Linked DNA regions of Homo sapiens: region 1 is linked to region 2. A link means that fine-mapping ties the variant in region 2 to the expression of a gene that starts in the linked region. Tissue or cell type: whole blood. Region 2 holds a variant in brackets; the other region holds the start of a gene. All regions are shown on one strand. Distances are from middle to middle. Region 1 holds the start of ANKRD33B (ankyrin repeat domain 33B). Region 2 overlaps ANKRD33B (ankyrin repeat domain 33B).

What was found. PIP is the estimated chance that this variant, and not a neighbour inherited with it, causes the effect.
Region 1: ANKRD33B starts here. The variant in region 2 is fine-mapped to the expression of ANKRD33B in whole blood (INTERVAL, PIP 0.97).

Annotation. Positions count from the first base shown.
Region 1 is chr5:10,559,362-10,568,966 of GRCh38, reverse strand. It overlaps ANKRD33B (ankyrin repeat domain 33B), which reads right to left and starts at 4,897. Exons shown (of 4, transcript NM_001164440.2): 1 at 4,134-4,897. The coding sequence starts at 4,499. RefSeq lists enhancers at 1,724-1,773, 1,854-1,913, 2,441-2,942, 3,234-3,323, 3,344-3,393 and 3 more and silencers at 3,044-3,093, 4,064-4,113, 4,454-5,313.
Region 2 is chr5:10,616,016-10,625,620 of GRCh38, reverse strand. It overlaps ANKRD33B (ankyrin repeat domain 33B), which reads right to left. Exons shown (of 4, transcript NM_001164440.2): 2 at 7,159-7,288. Among named protein-coding and RNA genes, the nearest start is that of ANKRD33B, 57 kb to the right of the region's middle. The variant C/T (reference allele first, on the strand shown) is at 4,560.

The DNA.
Region 1 (9,605 bases), 57 kb after region 2:
AGCACCTCAAGAGTAAAGGGAAACACCCACACTGGGTGTGATGTGGGCTTTGCTGACCTAACAAAACAAACCAATGGAGGGGCCTTTGGAAAACGTAACCAAGAGACCCTGGAAATTTAAACACGCAGAAGCAGGGCAGGCGCGGTGCCTCACACCGGTAATCCCAGAACTTTCAGAGGCCAAGCAAGAGGATCACTTGAGGTCAGGAGTTCAACACCAGCCTGGCCATCATGATGAAACCCTGTCTCTACTAAAAATACAAAAATTAGCCGGGCGTGGTGGCGCACGCCTGTAATCCCAGGTATGTGGGAAGCTGAGGCAGGAGATTCACTTGAACCCCGGAGGCGGAGGTTGCAGTGAGCAGAGATTGCGCCACTGCACTCCAGCCTGAGTGACAGAGCAAGACTCAGTCTCAAAAACAAACACGAACACGCAGAAGCAGAATCCCATCAGGACAGGAGTGCAGTATTTTAAATTGAGCATGTATTTGGGCCTAATTAAGTCCAAGAGCTGTCTGACATTTAAACTGCCCTTCTGCAACAATTAAAACAACACACTTTGTGTGTTTTCACTGTCATCTCAAGAGCCGCCAAGGCCATAAAGGTGAACTTCAGGTGATAGTAAGTGGAAGAGAAGAATTAAGAAAAAGAATTATGGCAGCTTGCACTGCCTCAAGTCAGAAGGAACAAAACAACCATAAATCCAGAAGACATTGGAAGCAAGCTTTGAATGTTATTGGGCAATTATCTGACAAATATTTACATGTTGCATATTAAATCATGCAATGCTTTTAGAGCAATAAATATTTTAGAAGGAAAATGGTGTGCTGAGCCACATCCAACATTCTACCAATCTCAGGAGGCAGGAGAGAATGCATTTTCTTAAACAAAACACATCTGACCCTTAGTTACCCAGACCAAATGGAATGCCTGTCAGCTCAGGCAAAGCTCCCTTCTTAAATGCCCAGAGATGAAGAGCTCAACAAGCATGTCCCAGAAAAGTTTAGACGCCTTTAGAGATCATTTCCTCCTAGAAAGCCGGCTGTGGGCTGTATCTGTGAGCTGTCATTCTGTCATTAATGCAATTACCCCTCCACTGCACCAAAGCTGTCCGGGCCTTCTTTAAGGTTTTCACTGCCACTAATCATGATAAGCTTGGAGACCAGGCTCCAACGAGGTTCCCACCTCAGTCTTTGCACACACTGTTCCCTCCGTCTAACTCCTCTTTCCCCTAGATGCCGTCTCTGCTCAAACGTCACCTGCTCTCTAAATGACCATCCTATTTATAATTTCAGCCCTAAATGTGTGAATGCCTACATTACCCTTGCTCAGCTCCAGGTTCTGTAGGCTTGGACAAGAGGAGACAGAAAAGCCTCCCAGGGAAGGTGCCCTTAAACCAGGAGCCTGCAGACAGAGAGGGAGTGACCCACACTGCCGTCGGGGAGACCGGACACCGTCATGTGAAAAGCAGTCCGTCTCCCAGTTTCCTAGGTCTCAGCTAGCCGCTCTTCCTCTGCAAGTTCTTCTCCTCACTAAAAGGCTAGGACTCTTCAAAGGCAGGGACTGCCAGATTCAGTTTTGAGTCTGCTAAAGTACCTAGCGGGAGCACAGTAGGTCTGCGGTAAACACTTTGGCAATGACTCACTCCATTTACCACAGAGCAGGGCATCAGGGCTTTGCCACACTTGATTCTTTCAGCTGTTTTTCAGGAAGATAGAGGCTGTTTGATCAACAGCCTTGAGAAGCTAATGAAAAGAATGGAGGCTCCTGCCTCGCTCCCCCCACTGGCCTCACAAAGCACAGAACACAAGCCCTGCTCCGTCTGATCCAAAGATGAAAGAGTCCAAGGGTCTCTAAGTTAGCAGGCTATGTCCGGGCCTACATCATTATTTTACGTGACACAGAGAAACAAAGTCTTCACTTCTGCTGTAATCAAAGGGGAAGAAAAGCAGCGAGAGAAAAAGCCTTGCCTGGCAGAAGACAAAAAACAAAACAAAACAAAATAAAACTGGAAGGTGCTCTCTTCCAAGCCAAGAGAAGGCAGACGAATGAGAAACACGATGGTAAACACAAGCCTGGGGCCAGGCCTTCCCAGAGCCTTGTGGGCACTAAGCCATTTTATGCTCACATCCTAAGAGGAGAGGCTGCCCTTATCCCTATTTTACAGACGAGGAAACTGAGGCAGAGAGCTGCTGGGAGGCTGGAGCTAGCCTCCCATACCACGGCCCTCCCCTGCCTCTCTGCTGTGTGGCCTGGAGACTCAGTCTGTTAGGCTCGAGCCCCTGGGGATGGTTTACGTTGCTGTCAGTTTTCTTCAATGCAGCTGTTTTCAAACATTTATGTTTTGCCCCTAAAGGAAACATTATATAAAGCTGAGCCCAGTGGTGCCCTAGAGTGGGGACTGGGCGAGCCAGGCCCCTCCTGTGCCCATTCCAGCCCACTGGAGACCACCAGGCTGCCCAGGACAGGGGGAGAGGCCCACCCCACCTGTTCCTTTATGAGCTTGGTGAGGCTTCCTTTAAAGCGGGCCCCCATACTGGCTTCCAGAAAGCAAGGTTTCTGATTACACACATCTGGGCCTGAAAACTCAGTTAAACCAAATGTAGAACTTGAGAAACAGGCCCTAGGACTTCGGGTGGAGCTCCAAGCCCTAATCACATGCCAGCCAGGGCATCTGTCGCCAGGGCTGGGGGAGGAGGCATTGCAAGAGGAATGGCAGCAGGAACTACAGGGCTCCAGGTGATGCTACCTACGGGGACGCCACCTCAGGTCTCACTGCCTAACATATGACAAGCACAGACCCTTCCTCCAAGTTCAAATGTTGTGTGATATGGTTTGGCTGTGTCCCCACCCAAATCTCATCTTGAATTCCCACGTGTTGTGGGAGGGACACGGTGGGAGGTAATTGAATCACGGGGGCAATGTAGTACAAGGGGAGAGTGACATTGGAGGGCTTCCCATCCACCTAAGCCCAGCCCAAACCACAGTCAGGGCAAACCACTTGCCCCACCCACTGCAGGATAAACCAAAGGCACAAGGTCACCCGGGTCCCCAAGTCAAAGCACATGTTTTCTGTCAGCTGCAGGCTCCTGAGCAAAAAGCATGTGCATTTGTGCTAGGCTGCATCTGCAGATACCACGGTCCTTGGACAATACAAAAATCAGGTGAGAACGCTGCCATTTGCCCACTGAGCACAGACTACGGGGAACTTGGCCACCGTGGTCACTCTGCAGTTTTCCCTTGAAGTGCTTTGCTTGGTGGAAGGTGTTCCACCAGCCAGTCCTTCTCAGGTCTTCTTAAGCCAACTTTTTTTCTTTTCCTTTCTTTTCTTTTCTTTTCTAAACATCTCGTTTTCTCTGAATCTGGTCATAACGAAAGGATAGCCTGTGCCTGCCTCCACGCCTCCTGCCCTACCCGGGTGGATGCCCGCGGCTCTGGGGCTCTCCCTATGCCCTGACTCTGGGGAGCCCCGGCTGGCATTGGCTCGCGAAGGTGACCTGCGGACAGACCAGTCAGAGATCACGTTGGCTGGTCGCGGCGCGGGCCACAAAGCTCAGCGGAGGTGGGGTAGGGGACCAAGCTGTCCCGGCGAGGGAAGAAACTGTTGCTTCCAAATCATTGCGGCTGGAGGAGCCGATCTGCGCCCCAGCGTGTTAGGACAAGGGCGGCGCGAGGGGCCCAGGGGCCAAATGGGGCGCTGGGCAGGAGGGGCTGTCTCCTGCAGGGGAGGAGGAATGGTCCCCTGCCAGGGACCTGGGGAAAGGTAATAGTCAGGAGGGGACCGGGCCGCAAGAAGCCCATCCTGGATTGCAGCACGGGCAGCCAGCGCGAATTCAGTCAGGAGGTCCACGGGGACCGGTAAACGAGAAGGGGATGCGGTGAGGACGCCGGACTGGCGTTTCTGCCGCGCTGACACCTCGACTGCTCCCTCCCCGCACCGCGTCCCCCAGCCTGAGACGGGGAAGCCACCCAGGGCACCGCGCTCCCAAACAGCGGGGAAAAGGCGCTCTGGGCGGCGGCTGAGTGACCGAGGGACCGGTCCGGAGCCAGGAGCTGGGAGGCGCGGGGATGTGGTGGGGAGGAGGGGAGTGGGGGCAGTGAGGGGGCTCAAATCCTGCGGGGACGCCCGCTTACCCTGCCGTTGCGGTCAGTCTCCTGCGCCTCCTCGACGCTCACCCCGCGCCGCACCAGCGTCCGCAGCAGCCCCACGTTGTTGGCGCAGGCGGCGCGCAGGAGGGTCGCCGTCTCCGGGACGCTTTCCGGGACGCCCTCCGGGACGCTCTCCGCGCTCTCGACGCCGTGCTCCTCCTCGTCCTCGAAAGGGTAGAAAGAGTCGTCCGAGGCGATGCTGCGGGTGTCTGGCAGACTCGAGAAGTCCTCAAACTCTTCGTAGTCAGCGGGGTCCTCCTCGACCTGCGCGCCCCGGGGTGGGGACGGCGGTGGTGGGGTCATGCAGCGCGCCCCGCCGCCCTCCGGCCCGGTCCCGGCCAGCAGCACCATGCCGGCGGCCGGGGCGCGGGCCGGGGGCCGGGGCGCGGGCAGGAAGAGCGGGACGCGGGGCGCGCGCCGAGGTCCCCGCTTCTCGCTTCTGCGTCCCCAGAGAAGCCGTGGCCCGCGCGCTCCAGCTCGGCGGAAACCGGCACCAGGCGGCTGCGCTCAAAGAAAAAAGTCTCCGGAGGCTGAGCGAGCCCCTGGGGTGGGCGGGACCGCGGGGGCTTTCCGAGGCGGGGCGGGGCGGGGCGCGGGGACACGCCTTCCCCCGGGGCCTTCCCCTCGCGCCCCTTCCTGGCCAGAGTTCAGAGCCAGGCAGGCGCTCTCTCGAGCGCGGGGACTGGGCACCTGGCAGCGTTGCCCCAGAGCTGGGGACAGCTGGCGCGGGAGAAGCAGAAGCAATCACTAAAGAAGCCGAACCCGAGTCGCGGGCGGCAAGCGGCCCCGCCCCTCCCTCCGCCGGCCCGCGGGATGGGGGCGGAGGTGGCGGCGGGGGGACGCCGGGGCGGAGCCGGCCTCCAGCTTCGGGAACCTCGGACCCCTGGAGCCGGCCTCCGCCGAGGGCGTCGGGCCCCCGGACCTGGGTGGGGCCGGTTTCTCCCGCCGCTTCAGAGGAGCAGAGCGGGTTTTCTCCCTTCGGGGGATCCCGGGCTTCGGGGCTGACTCCACCCGGCCGCGGCCGCTTGGAGGCCGGGGAATCCCCGGGGCGCTTGGCGGGCAGAGGAGCCGGGCGCGGGAGCGGAGCCGTCCACCTGGGACCTGTGCCCGGGGAGCGCTGCGGGCCGGGCCACTCTGAACTGGGGGCGGTCGGCTGCTGTGGGGGAGTCCCAGCCCGGAAGGGAGGACAATCCTCAGAGTCCCCCGTCTCGCGGAACCGGGGCCGGCCGTGGCTTGAGGGTTGGTCAGATCCTGGGATGGGGGGCGGGGTGTTCCGGAACCTCAGGGAGCATCTGAGTGGGAACGGACGACGAGGAACTCCCCGTCCCCATGCCTGGCCTGTGTCACGTGCGGGGATCTGCGGACTCACCCCCGGAGGCTGCGACTGGGCGCTGACCCCACGTCTGGCTGCCCAAAAGAGCAGGGCCGCGGGCGACAGCCGCAGTCCAGGCCCACAGCCCCTCTGGCCCGGCCTTGCCCTCTCCCCGTCAGTCCTGGCGCCGGGGATGGGCGGGGAGGAGGAGGGCGTGTGAGGATTTGCCACAGGGAGCCCTTGACTTCGGGGTAGGAGGCGTCGTGAGCCAATCTTGGGGGAAGGTCTCTGCGCAAAGGCGCGGAGGTGCGCTCGCGCCCGTCGCAGGTCAAAGACTGCGGAGGCCACCAGCCCTGTGTCCCCCTAGCCTCCTTCCTTCCTTTTTTTCCCCCGATCTTGACAGCGTGTCCACCAGCTGCCAGCCGGTGGGAGGCCCTCGCGGCCCCAAGGTGAACACAGCTAGGCTGGCGCAGCCGCTGGGGACCAGGCTTGAGGCCCACGTGCCGCTGGGCAAGCTGAGGGGCACGAGGGCACCGAATCCGAAACAGCCGTGGGAGGTGTAGGATGAGGACACGTTTAAACTGCGAAGCCGCTCGAGCCCTCGTGTCACACCGCACTGGCCCGACCCGCTGTCCTGGTCGCCTGGTCTTCCAGTGTCTCCAGCAGGAGCCAAAGGGCCTGCTGGCGGCCCCCGACCCGGCATCTGCAGGGCCCCGGAGGGTGGGGCGCGCGGGAGCACCGATTTCTGGTGAAGACGCCCTCGCACCTGGGCGGCTCTGAGCGAGCAGCGAACTGAGACTCGCTGGCCTCCTTCTCTACTCCGGGGATTCTTTCTGCAACCAAAAATAGCCCCCAGATTACAGTAAACTCTACCTTTTTGTGTAACTGACCACAGTTTGCATCAATTCCCACTGGGAATTTCCCCTTTCAAGGTTGAGGGTTGTTTCCAAAGGCCTGGGGTAGTTACAATTTCAAGTGCCCCCTGAGGGCTGAGTTGGGTTTGCTGGACCCACTGTCCTCCCAGGGAGAGCACTGCGTCACTTTACAGCAAGAGTCCCGGCTGCGGGTCACCAAGGCCCAGGTGGACAGGGCCAGGCCCTGAGAGGGGAGCACCACGCAGCCTTTTCTGGCCTCCCGTAGGCGATTGGTGCTCATTGACCGCGTCACTCAGCAAGGGAATTGAGGTTCTATCTTCAGAGTTTACCACTTCCTTTTCTTCCTTAGAAATTTGAGTCCAAATAGCATTTGAATGTGTTTCCCCTTAAATATAAACTAAAATGTCATCGTCTGCTTCAAAGAAGAACTATCGTTTATAAGTAAGTGGTCCGATTCAGGATGCAAGCTGATCATTTTCCTGTCTTTTAAAAATAAACCGCTAAGAAGAAACAATAAATAAAAAATAAAATATGCTTCTTTTACAACAAAGACAGTAGAGTCTGGACATTTCTGGAAGATGGGCTAAAAGAAACACAAAATCGACCGGGCGCGGTGGCTCACGCCTGTAATCCCAGCATTTTGGGAGTCCGAGGCGGGCGGATCACGAGGTCAGGAGATCGAGACCATCCTGGCTAACATGGTGAAACCCTGTCTCTACCAAAAATACAAAAACAAAATTAGCTGGGCGCAGTGGCGGGCGCCTGTAGCCCCAGCTACTGGGGAGGCTGAGGCTGGAGAATGGCGTGAACCCGGGAGGCGGAGCTTGCAGTGAGCAGAGATTGTGCCACTGCACTCCAGCCTGGGCGACAGAGCGAGACCCCGTCTCAAAAACAAAACAAAACAAAACACCAAAAAAAAAAAAAAAGACACAAAATCAGGCATAGGCATTTTTAGTAAAGCCAACATTTATTATATGTACAAAATCTGCATAGGTAGGAGAAAGTAGCTTATCAAAACTGCCGACTCAGGATAACTTAAATTAATATTCTGAGGCCAGGTGTGGTGGCTCACACCTGTAATTTCAAAACTTTGGGAGGTTGAGTCTAGCGGATCCCTTGAGCCCCAGGAGTTCAAGCCCAACCTGGGCAACGTGGTGAAACCCCATCTCTGCAAAACATACAAAATATAGCCTAGTGTGGTGGCGTGTGCCTGCAGTCCCAGCTACTTGAGGGGGAAGTCGAGGCTGCAGTGAGCCCTGATGGTGCCACTGCATTCCAGCCTGGGCAACAGAGTGAGACCCTGTCTCAAAACAAAAAGAGAAGTACTGAGAAATTATATTTTATCCGACTGTCAAGTTTCAATGAATTATTTTGTTATGATTTTGAAAGATATACATAGCAATTACACAATTTGTTCATTTAGTTGAATAATTTGTCTTTGGACCATTTTTTAAAAATTCAGCACTAGCTCAGTTATATGTCTGTAACATGCCTTTCAAAATTACAAGCAGTATGTTTATCTTGAAGAGAGAGAAAACTGCATGCACCTATAGGGCCTGCCCCACCTTGGTTTGGAAGGAGGGAGGCAGGGGGAACCTAGTGGTGGAGGAGCACACAAGTGCACCACAGTGTTCATAAAATAACTAGCTCCAGCACTTTGGGAGGCCAAGGTGGGCAGATCACTTGAGGTCAGGAGTTCGAGACCAATCTGGCCAACATGGTGAAACCCCATCTCTACTAAAAATACAAAAATTAGCCAGATATGGTGCTGCATGCCTATATTCCCCACTGCTCGGGAGGCTAAGGCAGGAGAATTGCTTGAACCTGGGAGGCGGAGGTTGCAGTGAGCTGAGATTGTGCCACTGTACTCCAGCCTGGATGACAGAGTGAGACGCCATCCCTCACCAAAGAAGAAAATAAAATAACCAGTTCCCATCTCCCAAGGCTAAATGAAGAACTGAAGGAGAGAGTGATTTAAAACCTTCTCACATTGTCTGGAATTTAGCAACAGTGTTAACTTTCATTAGTATGAAAATTAAAGTATCCATTCGCCTTGATATAAATTGTTCTGTAGGACCTGCTTCTCCAGATTCATTGCCTTATTTGCCGAGAGAGCTAGCCCAGGTGAAGTGAATGAGAAATGTGTATAGAAGGCAGTGCAGCTTGGGGTGAAGACCAGATAGTGATATCAGACAGGCTGGCTTCCAATTATGGCTTTACCACTGCTAAGTTACAATGATAATAGTTCTAGATTTTGAATGTCTGTTACTGTGGGGGTACCAATCTCCTATTCTTGATGTTTAGGGTATTTCCAACATTTTCCTTAGTGGACACAAATGCACCCTTGTCCAGGTATTTCCTCAGAAAAACATCCCACCTCAAGTGGCTTGAGCTTTTTAAACCCCAGTATTATGTGTAAAAATTGTTCTCAGTGAGAGAGACTGGGAGAGCCAGACCTCAAGCTCAGATGGGAAGACTCAGGGCTGTAAAGATCCTACTTGTCTTCATACTGTTCTAGAAATGACATGACCACATTCCTGTGTGAATGCTTGGAGGGGAACATGACAGCACTAATCCAAAGTAGATCTCATGAGATAACAACCGTCTGATAATTTCTTTTGCTGCTGTTGTTTTCATTGTCGTTGACGAAAGCTTTCCAGAGTTAGTCTCTGTTACTAGGAACTAAAACTCAGTTCAGCAAAACAGCATATTAAGAAAAAAACTCGACCGGGCGCGGTGGTTCATGCCTGTAATCCCAGCACAGAAAGAGAGAGAGAGAGAGAGAAAAGAAAGAAAAGAAAGAAAGAGCAAGCTAAATGGGGAAAAAACATTAATTGCAGAAAAAACATTAATTGTGCTGCTTGTGGCAAGTGGTTAGGATGATAGCCAAAACGTAGAGAGAATTCACAAACCAAGAAGGAAAAGCTGAGCATATTTATTAATTTGTTTAGCCCCTGTTGTTCCATAGTGAGGGAAATACAGCTCATTACGATGAAAAAGACTCATTCGCTTGCCTTAGGTAGCCGAAGGGAAACTGTGCCAGGAGGCGTGGGCTCTGCCTTCTTCAGCGAGTGAGCTGAGTGGTAGCTATAGTTAAAGGGAAACAGGCCAATCCTTGAAGTTGGATGCCAGAGAAGAAAACGAGGGTCTGGGGTCAGCCAGGGCTGGAGAGGGGACCTTAAGGCTCAGCTTCACAAAGGCTGGATGCTTTGTTTTCTCAATACCACCTTCCTCTCAGTCATCTTCTCAAAAGACAGAGCTGGGAGATGC
Region 2 (9,605 bases):
ATAACGCAGCCTCTCAAATTTGAAGTCTTGGTGGGGAACCGGGCATGAGCCACACATCCCCGTGCAGGAAGGCAGGGCTACGAGCGCCTGGCAGGGCTCAGGGACACCGACACAGCAGGAGCTTCTAGATTAATAACCATGTGAACAAAACCACTAAAAACACAGTCTCAACAGCACTAGCCCAGTCATGTGAATACAAAGCGCACATACATACGTGTGTGTTTGGAAAGGACTGAATGAGGTCTGAAGAGGTGACTCCTGAGTGCTGATAAGGGAGCTGGAATATTTGGAAGACAGAGAAGGGATCTTTTTCTTCCTCCCTGATAATACTTTTGTAGTCATTTTTGGCTGTAAGCAAATATGCATGGACAGCTTTTGAAATTAACAAATCATCAAAGAAATAAAACTGGTTATGAAATTGATTAAAATGGGACATCACCTGATTGGGCCTAAACAGCCTCTTTGGCAAAACAGCACAGGAAAGTCATGAACACATGCTCACCTGCCTTCCTCATTTTCACTTTAATTCCGTGATGCCTCTGTGTCTGTCTGACAACATCTCTCGTGGGGTCTGTGACTCTGCTGGTCTTCAGTGCCCACTGAGAGGGGTCCTTTGCCGTCATCAGGCATAAAATCTTCAAAGCTCTCCATCCTCAATGTGGGGTCCCTGGGCCAGTGGCATCAGCCTCACCAGGAAACCTGTTGATCTGCTCATTCTTGGGCCCCACCCCAGGCCTATTCAAAGAAAGACTCCAGGGGCAGGGCCTGGCAGTCTGTGTTTCCACCAGATCTGTGTTAATGCTCACATGAGCCAGCCCAGGTGATGCTGACGCCGGAGGCGCAAGATTGGGAGCCAGTGTCTAAGGAAACTATGCCCATGGGGACAGGGGCAGCCCCTGGAGGTTCAGAAAGAAATTAGGGAAAATCTCTTCGGCACATTGAGGCAATTAAGACACACACAAGGAAGCTTTTTAATCTGTGTTTGTTTAAATGGTGTAAAGTCCCTCTCCCCTCTGCCTCCGTATGCAACCTCAACAATTCAGTCCCAAAGCCTCAGGCAGCAGCCTAGGTTGGGTGTCCAGGGATCAGAGCCCAGGCCAGAGGGTGGGTGCACACAGTGGCGGCCACAGAGAGCTCAAGCAAATCAGTAAGTAGGGGAAGATAACAAAAGCCAGTAAAAAAGAAAAAAAAGGCCAGGCCCGGCGGCTCACGCCTGTAATTCCAGCACTTTGGGAGGCCAAGGTGGGCGGATCACTTGAGGTCAGGAGTTCAAAACCAGTCTGGCCTACATGGTGAAACCCCGCCTCTGCTGAAAATACAAGAAGTAGCTGGGCACGGTGACTGGCGCCTATAATCTCAGCTACTCGGGAGGCTGAGGCAAGAGAATCGCTTGAACCTGGGAAGCAGAGGTTGTAGAGAGCTGAGATTGTGCCACTGCACCCCAGCCTGGGCGATAGAGCAAGACTCAGACTCAAAAAAAAAAAAAAAAAGAAAAGAAAGAAAGAACGAAAGAAAACAAGAAGTAAAGAAAAAATACATTATAATAATGATTTTATTTAAATTGAAAAGGCAGAGTAAACCCATCTAGGCATCAAATCATTAACAACAGTTATCTCCAGAGAGCAGACTGAAGAGAGGGCTGACAGTGAGGTGGAAGAGGTATTCACCTCTAATTTCCTTGCTCATGTGGGGTCATTTTCCCCCCAAACACTGTGTATTGTATTTTAAAATCAGCCTCCAAGAACATCAGCCAGGCCAAGTGGAGGAAGCAGGATAATGGCTGAGGCCTCTGCCCGCCTCCTCCTGTCCACCCAGGCAGGTTTCCAGCTGTGATGCTGCCCTCAGGATAGCCCAGACCCTGGTACATACCCCGGCCACCCGATCCTGCTACCTGACTTGGACTCCAGCTCTGTCTGGCAGCACGGCTACCCCTGGGTGGGCCAGCTCCCAAGAGAGCTGAGAACACAGGAATCTTCCCTCCTATCCAGCTTCCCACCTGCCACAGTCTGAATGTTTCTGTCCTCCGAAATTCCTGTGCGAAAATCCTGCCTCCAGGATGACACTACAGCAGGTGGCTTTCGGAGGTGATTAGGTCCTGACGGAGGGGTCCTCGTGGTGGGATTAGTGCCCTCACAAAAGAGGCCCCAGAGAGCTGCTTATTTCCTTTATCACAGCCTAAGCAGATGAAGACACCATCTGTGACCAAAGGCAACAGAGAGAAGCCAGGAGTGTGACTAGAACCATCGAGGGACACCACCCAATTTCTGTTCCTTAAGGAAGATGGCAGGGACAGGCCTCTGTTGATGAGGAGGATGGGGTATTACACCTAATTCAGTGAACCCTGCAAAATTCCGGCAATGCCCCACAGATAGAAGGGCAGAAAAGGAGAGGTGGTCTATGGGGACGCTTTGAGACCCACTGATGCCATTTTTCAACACTCCAGGCACATGAGGCCAGGGAGGGCACTAAGCTCCCGAGGCCACCTTCCCCCTGAGGTCCCACCAGGCAAAGGGTGGGGGCTGCTCCTTGGTTGTTACAGGCTCCCATGCCACACTCAACTTGGAAGTAAAACTACACAGCCCAGGAGGGGAGTGGCTGCGGGGCCTGCACCTGGACCCGAGTTCTTCCCACCACGCCCCAGGCTGCTGGGCACTGAGCCTGGATGGAAATCAGCTGGAGCCCTTTCCTTCTTCCTTTGCCAGAGAGCCCTCCAATCTCCAAGAGGACCTGTGTCATCCTTGACTTAAAATAAACCAGAGAAGGATGAGCACAGTCCCTGCAGAAGAATGAGCAAGCCAGAAAAAAAAAAAAATAAAATAAAATAAAGCAAAAACAAAAAACAACCCTGGATCACTGTAAAGACAGTGAGATTCAAAAAGAAGGGGCTGGGCTACAGGTTTCAGGGCAGCATCTTCATCTGAAATAGATCGATTGCTCCCCGGTTGTCTAGTGCCTAGGAAACAATTTAAAAAATGAAATTGGTTTATTGCAAGAAGCAAAAGAACATTTTTCAAATTTTAACAATCCATATTCTTAGAAAAATTCAATAGGTCACTGACTCAGTGAAAAACATAAGCATTTGTGGAAAGGGAAGCAATTTGAAATCTGGAGAGACTGCATAAAGTTAAAAAAATTTAACCGCGTTTTTGAATATGGTGCTATAAGACCAATAACTTTTGGTAGAATATGTTGGAAGAAAACAACCACAAAGAAATATGGGCTTTTACTTAGGTCTGATGCTGGTAGCAGTGGTGGTATTCTAATTTCTGATTCTTTGGTTAAAAAAAAACTGTTCATAGCTGGAAACTGAGCTAATGAGGTGACTGGGTCTCTTTTCCCTCCAGGGAAGTGCTGGTGCTGGATGTGGGGTTCTGGGTGCTGTCCAGGGGACCCTCTGGCAGTATTCAGTTCCTAGGCTGCTCCACAACTCTACAAGGTTAGAAGTTAAGCTGTAAAACTGATTGTCCACAGCAAGGCAATTGCATTGTATCTGGTAGAGATATAATTTACTTCCTGTTATAGCTCAGGCTGCTATGACAAAATACCATAGACTAGGTGGCTTAAACAATAGACATTTATTTCTCACAGTTCTGGAGGCTCCTCCTCCTGTTTGCAGGCAGCTGTCTTCTCACTGTGTCCTTACATGGTGGGGAAGGAGCGAGCTCTGGTCTCTTCCTCTTCTTATAAGGACACTAATCCCATCATGGTGGCCCTACTCTCATGATCTCATCTAAACTTAATTACTTCCCCAAATCCCCACCTTCTAATGCATCACATTGGGAGTTGGGGTTTTAACATATGAATTTGAGGGGGAGGACATAAACATTCAGTCCATAACATCACCTTATAGAAAAGATAACCCACAACATTATATTCTATTGCCTTATAGGATATTAACCAGTTTTGCATCTATTAGCAGATGTATTTCAGCATTTGTGATTGCCTCTATGTGCCTGTTCTTCAAATTTCCTTTGAACTGGCCTTAACTAATTACTAGCCCATCACTAATTAATGAGTTTTCACTTTCTGTCCACCTAAGAGTCAAATTTTTAAGCTTTTGAAAATTATCCTTTAGTATCACCACTTTGTGCACATTTGTCGTAGGACAGGAAAATGGGTAAATGCATTGTGATTGCTGCAAACCAGGTTTCTTGCCGACAAAGAATGGGGGAAGCATATGGAAAGGGTGAAGAGGAGGAATACTATGGTGTTGCATTTGGATTGGAGGTATCCTTATTTTTTAAATATTTTTTTTTCTAACTCTGCTCACTGAAATGCCTAGAAGCAATAACATTTAGTGTGAATGAGCACAGCTAGAGTCCAGATTTTGGTTTCTAAATACCATTCCTCACTAAAAAAAGAACTATCATTCCTTGAAGATACAGCTGGTTACAGACAGGGACTGGGAAAGTCCAGGGAGAATGTGGAACACTTTGGTGTGCCATAAATCAAGAAAATACTCAAAACTGACAGAAATATGACAAAAGGACACTGGAGCCATCTTCAGGGTTACCAACTGGCTGGGTTTGGGATAACTTCAGCACTGAAAAGAACAAAGG[C/T]GTTATTGAAGTAGAACACACGAGATTTTTAAAAAATGAGTAATGGTACCAAAAAAAGGGTGGGGCTAAAGGAAAGCTCTTCTTTATAGAAAAATATCAGATAATAAGTGTAAAATAAATGATTCAGAAAAGGATTATCAATGGCAAAAACTGGTGGGGAAACAGGATATTCATACAATCTCTAAGTATCACCTTGCAGATTACTTACTAATTACAGAGGGGAAATATCTGCCTTTAAAATGGAGAAATGTAAGCAGTTCGTCAAATTTAGCATCACCCACACCAGGACACACTGGCAGTATGTGTCCTGATAGGACACACCAAGGACATATCATGGCCAATGCCATATTCTTGCCAAAAATATACGATGTGCTCCTGACTCTGAAGAAACAATCATGGGTGAATATAAAATCAAAACACCTGCAAACAGGCAAGACTCTGGAAAGCACCTCATGGGTATCAAAGCACAGCTATTATCTCTAACGCACAAAGAGCTCTGGCAGATCAGTAAGAAAAGAAATCCCCTCTTATCGTACATTCTCATATTGTCATGACCTAATCCTTGTCCCAGCTCTCACCAGCAACACCTGTCCCTCATCTGTATTTCTAGCAGGGACCAGATTTTGGAGCTCCTTCTCTTCCTGACTTGCCATGGAGACCTCTTTACTTAGAGGTCTCAGAGCATTTCAAAGTCATGATAGCCAGCTCAAAACCAATGTTCCTCCCATTCATCTTCTTTTACTTATATGCCCTTTGCAGTTGGTGTTATCCCCTGTCCCAAAGCCCAAAGCCATCCTAGACCCCCAGCTCTCCTCCATGGCCCGCATCACCACCACCGCCAACTGTGTTTCTAGCCACACAGCTCCCGGCCCTTCCCTGTGCTCTGAGCCCTCTGCTACGCCCCTGGGATCCTCTCACCCCTGTCACCACTCACGCAGCCTCACGCTACTGAAATACATTCCCTTGCATTGGGCTTAGACCCTTAATGGTCTGGTCCCCATCCTTCCCTCATCTCTCCTAGACACACGCCATCCTACAGCCATGCCCACCTACACTGTCCCTAAGACTCGCCATTCCTGAGAACTGCCCGGCTCCCTCTCAGCCCCAGCTCAAATCCCCTTCTTGCAAGACCTTATCATGAACTTCAGGCTAGATAGAGTGTTCTCATCCCACAGCACCAAGCTCCGGCAGACAGATGGTGCTGGGCTTCGTGTGTTTCTCTGTCCCATGAGCTGCAGAATTACTCAAGGACGGGGCTGCCCTGCACTTCTGTATCCTTGGTCCCTGACATGGCAGCTGGCCCACGAGAGGAAACGAATCACTGAATGCCTTACAAAGCCCTTTCACACTCTTGCTAGGTTTTCAAAGCCTGGAACCCTCCATGGAAGTGATGCCTCACGCTTCGAAACCTGAGGAGGTGAACACATGTTAGCACAGCCCCTGGCCCTTTCTAAGTTTGAAGAGTTCCCCCACTCTATTCGTCTTGATTGAAAAGTAGGGTGCCCAGACCACTCCCACCACAGGGGATGAAACTGTCAAACACTGGTTTTCCAGCCTCCCTGGCCCCCCACCCATCAGATCCACCCAGGGTGGCTTTGGTCCAGGAGCTTGTGAAGCAACAAGGGACAAGGAGGTCTCCTTTTGGTGACAGCAACAGCCATTTCCCAACCAGAATCAACATACAGTGTGGTCGGGGGCACTTCCTCCAGTTTCCAGGCCCTGAGTGGGATTCTCAACAACCCGACAACCGTGTAAGCTTCCCCTCCTTCCTTCAACACACAAGCGCCTGTTCTTCCTGGCTCAGCTGCAGGCAGCTTCTTTGCTTGCAACTGAGAACTTGACCGATGAAACAGACAGAATCTTTGGAGGCAAAGAAATGTGAAAGGGGTCAGTGATAAACCTGGTCAAGACCACTGTTCCAAATGAAGTGTGATTATGAAGAGGCAAGCATAGGTTTCATGTCTGTCCTCAAAAAAATGTCTGGATACAGTTCCAAAGCAGGAGAGTCGCAATGCACTTGGCAATATTGACATAAGCACTGTCTTCTTGATGACTGATGGGCTGAGGGCCACATGCTTGGATACCCGCTCACAAGATGCTCCCACTGACTTCATCTCAGCTTGTTACACGGATACTCTAACAGCTCTCAGAAACAGTTCCTGGCGTTTCTTTAACTCTACAGGTGAAGTGCAAAGTCACCTTCTACACGTGTCTACTTTCATGATTAACTATCACTGAGACACATGATTGTGTCTCTTCCACTGGTGGGTCTGCCAGCCTCGTGCCACCCCCAGTCTTCGGGAGCAGGATGGAGTGTGAGGCTTCAGGTGAAGCGGTGACAAGGGTGGCTTTCTGGTACAGATTCATATTCAAAAACTTTGGGCAGTATCGGAGCTTGATCTGCCCATACTGAATTCTGAACAAGTGGGTAAATGCATAGCGTGTGGTCACAGCAATCAGCCCTTCCCTGGCACCCCTTGGTAGCAGGACATGGTCTCTGATCATTTCCATCCTGACTGCATCGCAACGGGAGCCCGGGCTGCCCGGCGGCGGTGCTCTGGCCACGGCTCTGAGAGGAAAGGGGAAAGCCAGCTCTTACCTGCCTGTGCAGCTGTGATTAGGGCTGTGTTCCCCTCGCTGTCCTGCCAGTTGACGTCAACGTGGGGGCACTCTGCTAAGGCCACCACGGTATCCACAAAGCCGTGGTAGCAGGCGACAATAAGGCCGGTCTAGAAATGAAGAGGGGAAGCGGGTCAGAGGGGCAGAGTCGGAGCATGGTGGGTCAGCACTGGGGACCCCGAGGGGCACCCACTACCCTCCAGGGGGCTGGACAAGGCAATGACAGGGACCTGGAGTCCCAATTCTCAGAGATGGTTTAGAGTGAGCCAGCCGCTCGATCCTTCTCAAATGTGTGTTGAGCACTGACTCGAGTGAGGGCCTAGACGTGAAAACATCAGTGAACTGCTAAGGTCTCAGCCCTCCTGGGGTGTGCTTTCTCCAGGGAGGGAAACACACCAACTATGGGGCTCGTAGAGAAATAAACGACAGAGCACGGCAGACGGCGATGGGGTAAAAAAGGTGTGTGCAGGGCGGGTGCAGCTCTCTAGGGAATAGAGTGGTCAGGCTGGGCTTGGCAGAGGTGATGTTGGGGTCCGTGTGTGAAAGAGGCAAGGCAGTGGGCCACAGGGACACAGAGAGGGGAAAATGCCCCAGTAGAGGAAACAGCTCAAGCAAGGGCCCCAACTCAGGACTGTGCCTGGTGCATCCAGGGAGCAGCCCATTGGCCGGCAGGGCTAGAGCAGAGTGAGTGAGAAGAGGAGGAGTAACCCGGGTCCAGGAGGCAACAGGAGGTCTCAGAGACCGTGGACAGGGGCCTGGGGACCCCCTGAGTAGGGGGAGTGTCCTGAGCCATCGGCTGCCAATCATCTGCATCCACTCTGGCTGCTGGGTGGGAAACAGGCTCTAGAAGAATGGGGTGGAGGAAGGGGGCTGATGGGAGACCACTGTGGGGCCAGGCAGGCAAGGATGGTGTCACACCAGGGTGGGGGCAGCAGCTGGGGAGGCGAATTTGGATTCTGGAAAGGAAGATTTGCTGTTAGAATGGAGGTGAGGTTGAATAGAAAAAGAGTCCAGGATGACCCCAGAGTTTCGGCCCTAGCAGCTGAGAGGATGCAGTTGCCATCAAATGAGAGCGACAGGATGTGGGACAGAGCGGGCGTGGGGACAGATGGCACGCAGACTTCAGTGTACTGTGGGAGACTGTCTCTGGACAACCCAGTGGTGACGTCAGGTAGAGATGAATAGCAGCGTGGAGTCATGGAGAGAGAACCAAGCTGGATACATACACTGATAGTTGATTTTGTAGATCTATTAATTAAGTATTACCAAATGTTAAAATCCTAGCTCCCAGTGGAATGGCGCAGGAAGTGGGGCTTTGGTGGGGTGATTAGATCACGAGGGTGGAGTCCTCATGAATGGGATTAGTGTCCTATAAAAAGGACCTCAAGAGCTCTCTTGTGCCTTTTTCCTCCATGTAAGGACACAGAGAGAAGTCTACAGTCTGCATCCTGGAAGAGGGCCCGGGCCAGAACCCCACCATGCTAGCGCCCTGATCCTGGGCTTCCAGCCTCCAGAACTGTGAGAAATAAATTTCCACTCTGTAAAAGATCTTGGACTTCTAGAACTGTGAGGAATAAACTTCCATTCTGAATAAGTACCCAGTCTATGGTGCTTTGTTGCAGCAACCCAAGTTGACGAAGAGACCTCGTAACAAAGGAAAACAGCGTAGACTCAGGTGTGAGGCTCACCGCCTCACAGACGTAGATACGGTGAGATGCTAAAATTCAACCCAGGGCAGGAGCTAATGACCAGGCAATCAAGTGTCACTCTTGGCACTGCCAGTCACACCACCACTGCATGAGAGGCACAAAGTTTATATTGAGAGCAACTCCACAGTGGCCCAGCCCAATCTTCACCAGATTTTTTTTTTTTTTTTTTGAGACAGAGTTTCACTCTTGTTGCCCAGGCTAGAGTGCAATGGTGCGATTTCAGCTCATTGCAACCTCCACCTCCTGGGTTCAAGCGATTCTCCTGCTTCAGTCTCTCAAGTAACTGGGATTACAGTCATGTGCCACCACGCCCGGCTAATTTTGTATTTTCAGTACAGACAGAGTTTCATCATGTTGGTCAGGGTGGTCTCGAACTCCTGACCTCGTGATCTACCCACCTCAGTCTCCCAAAGTGCTAGGATTACAGGCGTGAGCCAACACACCCGGCCAATTTTTAGTAAGAATATAATTTTTCATGGAACAACAAGAGGACTCGAGTAGCCCTGCCCACTTATCTCAATAAGGCTCCTAGTTGCCCCACAGAAGAATATTAAATCACAAATATTCACATGTTTAAAGTTCTACAGAATACCATTGATTTTCTAACACTGACATCCATACCACAGCATAATCAACTCAATAACTGTTGACTATGGTAAAGCCTCTTTAATATAATCTAGCTTAAGCACCCTTTGAAATAGGTCATTCCATCTATATG